2 linked regions of the Homo sapiens genome follow. The protein of the gene in region 2 purifies or fractionates together with the protein of the main gene of each other region. This does not show direct contact. Each region holds a gene or a part of one and is shown on either strand. Other genes may lie near its edges.

What was found.
Region 1: the proteins of LAMP5 (region 2) and LMBRD2 purify together in Homo sapiens (affinity purification with mass spectrometry; one large-scale study listed by BioGRID and IntAct). This does not show direct contact.

The regions. Positions count from the first base shown.
Region 1 is NC_000005.10:36,138,388-36,141,887, forward strand, and holds part of LMBRD2 (G-protein coupled receptor-associated protein LMBRD2), read right to left. Parts: intron 2,816-3,500; coding exon 2,720-2,815; intron 1-2,719. UniProt on the Homo sapiens protein: Recruited to ligand-activated beta-2 adrenergic receptor/ADRB2, it negatively regulates the adrenergic receptor signaling pathway. May also regulate other G-protein coupled receptors including type-1 angiotensin II receptor/AGTR1.
Region 2 is NC_000020.11:9,513,140-9,517,389, forward strand, and holds the start of LAMP5 (lysosome-associated membrane glycoprotein 5 isoform 1 precursor), read left to right. Parts: upstream 1-1,450; 5' UTR 1,451-1,713; coding exon 1,714-1,777; exon of another isoform or gene 1,778-1,859; intron 1,860-2,313; coding exon 2,314-2,486; intron 2,487-2,860; coding exon 2,861-2,992; intron 2,993-3,116; coding exon 3,117-3,222; intron 3,223-4,250. UniProt on the Homo sapiens protein: Plays a role in short-term synaptic plasticity in a subset of GABAergic neurons in the brain.

The DNA of each region.
Region 1 (3,500 bases), on a different chromosome or scaffold from region 2:
TACTGATACATACAGCACAGCATAGATGAATTTCCCAAATATGTGAGCAAAGAGAGATGCAAAAAAGTTCACAATGTATAATTCTATGCTTATAAAGTTCATAAACAGGCAAAAACTAATCTATGGTGACGGAAGTCAGAATCATGGTTACTTCTGGGGAGTGCGGGATGACTACACAGGGAAGCGTGAGCGAGGCTTCTGGGGGCATTGCTAATGTTCTATAACATCATCTGAGTGCTGGTGTATGGGTGTATTCACTTTGAAAAAAGTCAAACTAAACACAATCTATGCATTTTTCGGTACGAACTTATGCTTCAATTTTAAAAAGTTTCTAAAAAAATTTAGTTGTGATCAGATCAACAAGGCAGAAGCTGGAAAGGAATCTGAATTGAGAGACTTTCATTTTTGTTTGTTTTCTTTTCAAAAGATGAGAGAAATGTGCATGCTTCGTTGAAATTGAAAGCTACAAGTATGTAACAAGAGCTGAAGGGGATGGATCCATATTTTAGGAAGAAGTGATGGCAGCAGCAGCTTGTCTGGAGTGGCCCCCAGCAAAGTTGCTGGCCGCAGTGTGGGGGGACTGGCGGGGACTGTGCACTCCATGGAGCTAGCAGGAGCTGGGAAGAGGTGGGAGCCCCACCCCCTTCCGAGTTGGCGGGGCAGGAGCCCTGCTCTGGGCATAGCTGCAGCTGCCCAGCTGTGGCTGTGGACCCAGGCATCCCTGCACTTTCGGGGACCCAGAAAGCCCCCATACCCCTACAGGCTTGGAAGTACCTGCTCCTGACACCTGCTCTGATTTTGGAGAAAAGTTGTGACTGAATCCAGGCACTGTTGTAACCTAGCTGGGTGTGCACACATGCTCAGGGCAGCACTGACACCAGCCCCCGGCTGCCTCAGCCCACTCTGGACTTTGGACATCAACAAGCACAGAAGGGAGGCTGACAGTGGGGCTGAGGGCAGCTCAGCATGGGCCTGCAGGCACTGGTTGGCATGAACAGCCTGGGTGCCATAAATGACATGATTGATGGTGGCAGGAGGCAGATAGGCTCCTGGGCAGAAGTGGGCAGGTCCCCGGTGAAGCCCCACCTTCAAGCCAGGGACAGCCTGAAGCATGGAGGCCAGGCCATCAGCTCTGTGGACCAGAGTGAGAACTTAGGGTGCTTTATCCAGGTCTGCCTATGGCCCAATCAGTGCACACTTTCTCCTCTCTGAAGCCCATAAAAACCCCAGACTCAGCCCCACTTAGGTAGATGACAGGACAACCTGACTACAGATAGGAGCTATCTACTTCAGGTCTCCTCTCTACTGGGGGCTGCACAGACGATTGGGATAACCTGCCTGCAGATAGGAGCTACCCACTCTGGGGCTCCTCTCCACTGAGAGCTATACTTGTCAGGACAACCTGCCTGCAGAAAGGAGCTATCCACTTTGGGTCTCCTGAGAGTTGTACTATCACTCAATAAAGCACCTCTTCACCTTGCTCACCCTCCAGTTGTCTGCATACCTCATTCTTCCTGGATGTAGGACAAGAACTCAGGACCTGCTGAATGGCAGAACTGAAGGAGCTGAAACACAAACAGGGCTGAAACATGGCCCTGCCACTTGCCATGTTGCAGGTGACGAGAAGAGAAGAGCTGTGGCCCTTCCAGGAGCCCAGATCTAGGGGCTCCCCAAGCTAGGGCTGTGACACCCTCTTTGGAGCTCTGAGGTTTCTGGCATCTCCAAGCTTCTGGGTACCACCACATTCCTCTCATCCAGATGCAGGTGCCCACAGCAGAAGCTGCTTGCAGTGCATCTGACCCAGCCACAGGCTTTCACAGAGCCGACACCTGTGCCGATGCCTGGAGCTGCCCACCCTGCCACAGCAGCCAGCGTGTCTGGCTGTGCTCAGTGGCTGGATCCCATGCTCACTCACTCACACACCCCTCACCACTCCATGCCTGGCTCGCCCTTGGGAGTCATGAGATCAGAGCCAGGAGCATGAGCTAAGTGCAACCTGCCAGGCTGAGTAAGCGGAATAAGCCCAGCGGGCCTGAGTAAAATTCAGGCAAAGGTGCTACTGGCCATAGAGGTTTCCAGCTGGCAAAACAACACCCCTAAGGATCCTGTGACAGAAGTATTGGCTTTAACAAGCATGACTCTTCCATCTTTGGAGGGGAAAGAAAAAAAGATGGGTAGGTATGTAGATTTGTTGGTGAGAAGCTGAAAGAGCTGCCGTCTGATGACTCCTGTTTTAACTGCTGGATGGAAAGTAGTCATCTGCTAAGAGGCTAAGAGTAAAGATGATTTTGTTGTTGTTGTTAGGGAGCACAAGAGAGAAAGCCATAAAGAGGACGGAAGTTTGAAGTGAATGGAAATATTTCTTGTAGAAAATGGAAAGAAAGCAAACTAAAAAAAACAAAGAAGGAAAGTCTGGCAATGTTGAGAGCCCAGTTGAATTTAATAGACATGACTTTACAAAAGCACTACTCTGCTATGTAATTTTTCTCTTGCAATGTTCAGTGCCTCCAGTTTTAGAGTGCAGTTGTTTGCAGATCTAAGAGATGCTTAGTAGACAGTGGATAACTATGAGTTTGGAGCACAGCAGAAAGATAAAAATAATGGGTAGAAAGATTCAGAATGCATATGACACATAAATAAATTCCAAACTATATTGATTGAAAAACATTTTATTCCTTTAGCCAAAATTTTAAAAATTTTATCATTTACTGTAACTTACCATGTTAAAAATTGTGACGTCCAATACACTACCCTCCAGAAAATTGGCATGATTCCATCAGGAATGTAACTCCATGGCTTGAAACAAGGATGCTGGCTGTTGAATAAAAAGTTAAAGCCAACTAATCATAAATGACTACTTAAATGAATTATACAATTAATTTGCATGTGGCCAAGTTAATTTACATTCAGATTTTAAATTACTGACTCTAATAATCAATAACCCATAAAATTTCAAAGAAATTTTAAAATTCAAAGCTGACTGCCAAACTAAAAAAACACACAAAAGCAACAAAATAGATTGTTCTGAAAATGTCATTTAAGTTTTCAACTTTCAGTGTATTTTTAGTCATTGGGTAAAAAGAAAACTTAATGTTCAACTAATAGACTAAAAGTGCAACAATCATTAAAAGCAAATGTATTATGAAATAAAATTTCTAATGATTACCTTTAAAATACACAATCCATTTATAGGTTGGGTTTTTTTTTTTTCAGGTTATAGGGGTTGGGAGGGGAAAACATTAGGTAATTAATTCCTGAAAATTGTAATGCTAATTAAATCACTCACTATAACATAGCTTCTATGGAGATGCATGCTAGCAATTATACATAATTCTGTTTAAATTTTTGAAGACATGATGAGTCTCTGATCATAAATTCTGCCATGGAGCCATATTCCTAAGCTAGAAGGATATCCCAAGAACTTGCAACAATCTGTAGCTGCTGCTGATCTTTATCCAGTTTTTTTAATAGTGCTTCAAATGGAAGTAACACCTGCATTT
Region 2 (4,250 bases):
AATCATCTTTGTAAAGTTCTTGAGAAATGTTTGGATGAAATACTGAACTACAAACATAAAAGTCAAGATGTCAAAATATAATGTCAATTTTAATATTACTTTATACTTTGAATTGCTAGTGATCTAATGATTGATATAGGAATATGTTTGAAAGCCAAAAACATTATATAGATACTTTGTGGCAGATATGTCAGAATGTGATTATACTTAAAACAGCATTCTATAAATTTGAAGAATGTGAATTAATGATAGAGATTTCAGATTTCAGATTATTATTTGATATTGAATATAGATTTTTATGGAAGTCAAAATATGGAGTAAAAATATTATATAAGGAGAAATGAAGATAATCTCACAGAGTTAAAGCATGTGATTTTTGTATTTTAATTCTAACTGACCATGTGACATTTGGGAAGGTCATTTAATTTATTTGAGCCTCAGTTTTGGGGTATGTAAAACCACAGTAACTCATATCTTTCCTTGCCTACCCTCTAAGATTGGGGAGAATCAAATTAGATAATGCAGGTGAAATACTTTGCAATTTTCCCTTTAATATGACATTGTTTTATAACATTATATTACTGATGCAACATTTATTTGCATTATGAAATATCTTCTAAGGAATAAAATATTTGGACATCACTACAATTGATGAGGACTGCATGTGTATTTTTGAAAGCTGTATTCTGATTTACAGAGCAAAAATAAAAAATAAGCAAGCTACCAAATATGTAAATACAGGAATTAGCCCAGTAGTATTTGTTCTTCTGTTCCACTACAGGCTTTAGAGTAATATCAGTGTGTGTTTTTCTTACATAACTATGTGACATTACTTAGGGCATAATTCTAAAATTTCTGTCCTAGGAGACACTAGATAACTCTCAAAAACTTCTGATTTGCTTGCATCCCTTTTTGGCAGAGTGGTCACAGTATAATGCGGGAGGGTAGGTGACCCCAGAGTTCAGAGTCCTCATGCACCCGGGAGCAAAATTCACAGGAAAATAAGCCCACATGGAGCTACTGCATTGTCTGATGGCCTCGTTCGAGGAGGCGTCAATTTAACTTTAAACCCATGAGCTCATTGAGAGCAGGGGAGAGAAGGGGATGTCTCCAAATTCAGGAAACTGTTGCCATAGCATTTTCCCTTCTCTATTCCTGCATAGCCCTCCTCCCCCGAATCAGCAACAATTTTTGCTCCACCGTTTTCTTTCGGGAACCAGATGCGTTTTCAGAAGACAGTACTCCAGTGATAAGGTATCTACACCACTTAATAACTGTACCTGGTAAGGAGATTTAATAAGGCTGAGGGTGGTATTAAGTTTCTCAGAACAGACTCATCTTTGCGGATGCAGTTGCAGAACAGGAAACAGACCCAGGGAGAAGTTTAGTCCCCCCAGATCTCATTGGCCCTCCGCACAAGCCAAGCCACAGCCACTCCTGCCACACAATCGGATTGCTTTCAGCACTCGCAGCCGTGGACCGCCGTGCGGTCCTTTCCTCCGCAGTGAGCCGATTTGCTCTGCCAGCAGCTGTCGGTGCCGCGCTCGACACCGAGTCCTAGCTAGGCGCTCACAGAATACGCGCTCCCTCCCTCCCCCTTCTCTGTCCCCCGCCTCTCGCTCACCCCGGCCCACTCCAGCGGCGACTTTGAGGGATTCCCTCTCTGGCGGCCTCTGCAGCAGCACAGCCGGCCTCATTCGGGGCACTGCGAGTATGGATCTCCAAGGAAGAGGGGTCCCCAGCATCGACAGACTTCGAGTTCTCCTGATGTTGTTCCGTGAGTAGCGATTTGGCGACTGGGAGAGAGGACGGGCACTCTTTGCAGAGAACAGAGCCGGCAAAGTAAAGTCAATTAGCTTGAGATAAAAAATATGGCCCTTAATGTTTTGCGGTGTTTTTTCTTTTTTTCTTTTAGGGGAGGAGGGAGGGCCTTCCTCGCCGGTGGCAGGGAATTCCCCTGAGAGCCATACACCTCTGTGGCATATTCCAGACAGAGCCTAGACAGGCCAGCTTCGTGAGGTCAGAGCATTGGCAAGAAATATTTACTTTAAAATCCCAAGATGTAGAAAACAGCCAGCTATATTACAAACAAAGTCAGGATTTTTAATTTTTTTAACTGTATTTTCATTATAAATTAACAGCGAAGGAATGAGGCTTGTTAGACCCGGGTTAGAGAAACGGCTCGTAGAGCGCACAGCTGCTGGCAGAGAACTTTGTCACTCCAAAGCCTGCAGAGCACTGTCTCCCCACCCTAGCGCCCGAGACGCGTGGGCTGAGCCCTGAACTGATGGAATTGTTTTGTTTGTTCCGCAGATACAATGGCTCAAATCATGGCAGAACAAGAAGTGGAAAATCTCTCAGGCCTTTCCACTAACCCTGAAAAAGATATATTTGTGGTGCGGGAAAATGGGACGACGTGTCTCATGGCAGAGTTTGCAGCCAAATTTATTGTACCTTATGATGTGTGGGCCAGCAACTACGTAGATGTAAGGAATCTTTCCCCCCCCTCAGCTTGCTCCTAGGGCTCCAGGGCGAAGGGCACCCTTCCTCAAGGCTCTTCGAAGACCTGGGTTGCCCGCCTTCTTTCCCACACCCCGGCAGGCTGCTCCCGAATGCTGCATGGGGATTCCAGCTTGTAATGCCTTCTGTTCCCCTGCCTGCTTTGAAAGTAAACCCCCTTCTCTCCGCTTCCCTATCGGGGCTGCACGTAGAGCATCTAACCGCATGTTCCCGGAACCTGGGATGCGCGCGCGCAAAGGAGCGCCCAAGCGTGCAACCCAGAGTTTGGACGCGCCGCCCTTTACAGCCCCCGCCCCGGGGCCGGGCGAGCTGAGGGGGCGCGGGGCGTCTGTGTTCCCAGCTGATCACAGAACAGGCCGATATCGCATTGACCCGGGGAGCTGAGGTGAAGGGCCGCTGTGGCCACAGCCAGTCGGAGCTGCAAGTGTTCTGGGTGGATCGCGCATATGCACTCAAAATGCTCTTTGTAAAGGTAACTCCGAGCCCAGCGGGCAGAGGGGCCGCAGGCTCCGCGTGGGTGTGGGAAGTGGCGGCCCCTAGGTTTAAGAACCCAGACGCTGCGGGGACGATTGAAGCGCACCTCCCCGGCTCAACAGGAAAGCCACAACATGTCCAAGGGACCTGAGGCGACTTGGAGGCTGAGCAAAGTGCAGTTTGTCTACGACTCCTCGGAGAAAACCCACTTCAAAGACGCAGTCAGTGGTGAGTGGAGGCTGGCATGGCTGGGGAGGGAGCCTGGGAACTCGCAGAACAGGCTTGGAGAGAGAATTCCTCAAGGTTTTGGAAACCGTCCCACGCTTTGAGGTCCCAGGCCAAGTCTTCCCTCGGCTTGCTCTTTAGGGCGGAAGAGGCGGGAGCGCCCATGAGTCTTCTGGGTCTCAGGCCTTGTAGATCCGCCAGGAACCGCAGGCGTGGGGACCCAAACGTCACCCGTGGCCTGATCCTAGATAAGAAGTCCCTTGAAGGCCTGTCGTTCCCTGGTGCTTCAAAACGACCTCTTATGATTTGGCCTTTGAAGGACCACGGAGAAGGGCAAAGCTGCATTTTAATTTTCTTCCGCATCCTGGTTTTGTTTCTTATGCGCTAAAACTGCAAGGGGGCAGTGCGACTTTCCTTTTCAGTCAGGATGTGATGGCCTTCAGTGTCTTTTTGCGCATGGCAGCATGGCTCGCACGGGATATTCAGTCATCGACTGCAGCTACCTGACAGTGGATTCTGCACCATGTATAATTTACTAGCGTTTCTGGCCCATCCCTCCGACAACTCAGCCAGATCCTCCTCGGCAAAACGAGCGTTCATCCCCCAAATAACAATATTCCTATCTGCAGACACCGTCAAAGACCACATTTAAATTTATTTTATTCTTTATAAGTTGTCTATTTCACTCATAATGAGGCCCTTCATCACCCAGGCACCTGAGTTGGGAAAGGATTTTTATTGAATACATAAAAATACATGTGTCATCTTTCCCTTTTCACCCCTTTTTGTTATCACAGTAAAAGGAGGATTTTTTCTTTTTCATCAAAGTTTAGATGCAAGATGTCCCCCAGTTAAATTAGACCAAAAAGGAAAAAGGAAAAATCAAACTTAGGTCAGAAAAAGAGCAATGGGAGGCAGACCTTCAGAGGGGATGTATGTGTGTAAGGACAAGCATCCAGAGGACCAGCAATCTGTCCGGCTTTGTTGAGGAAGATGTTTTATTCTTTGCCAGGCCCGTGTGAAATGTGGAA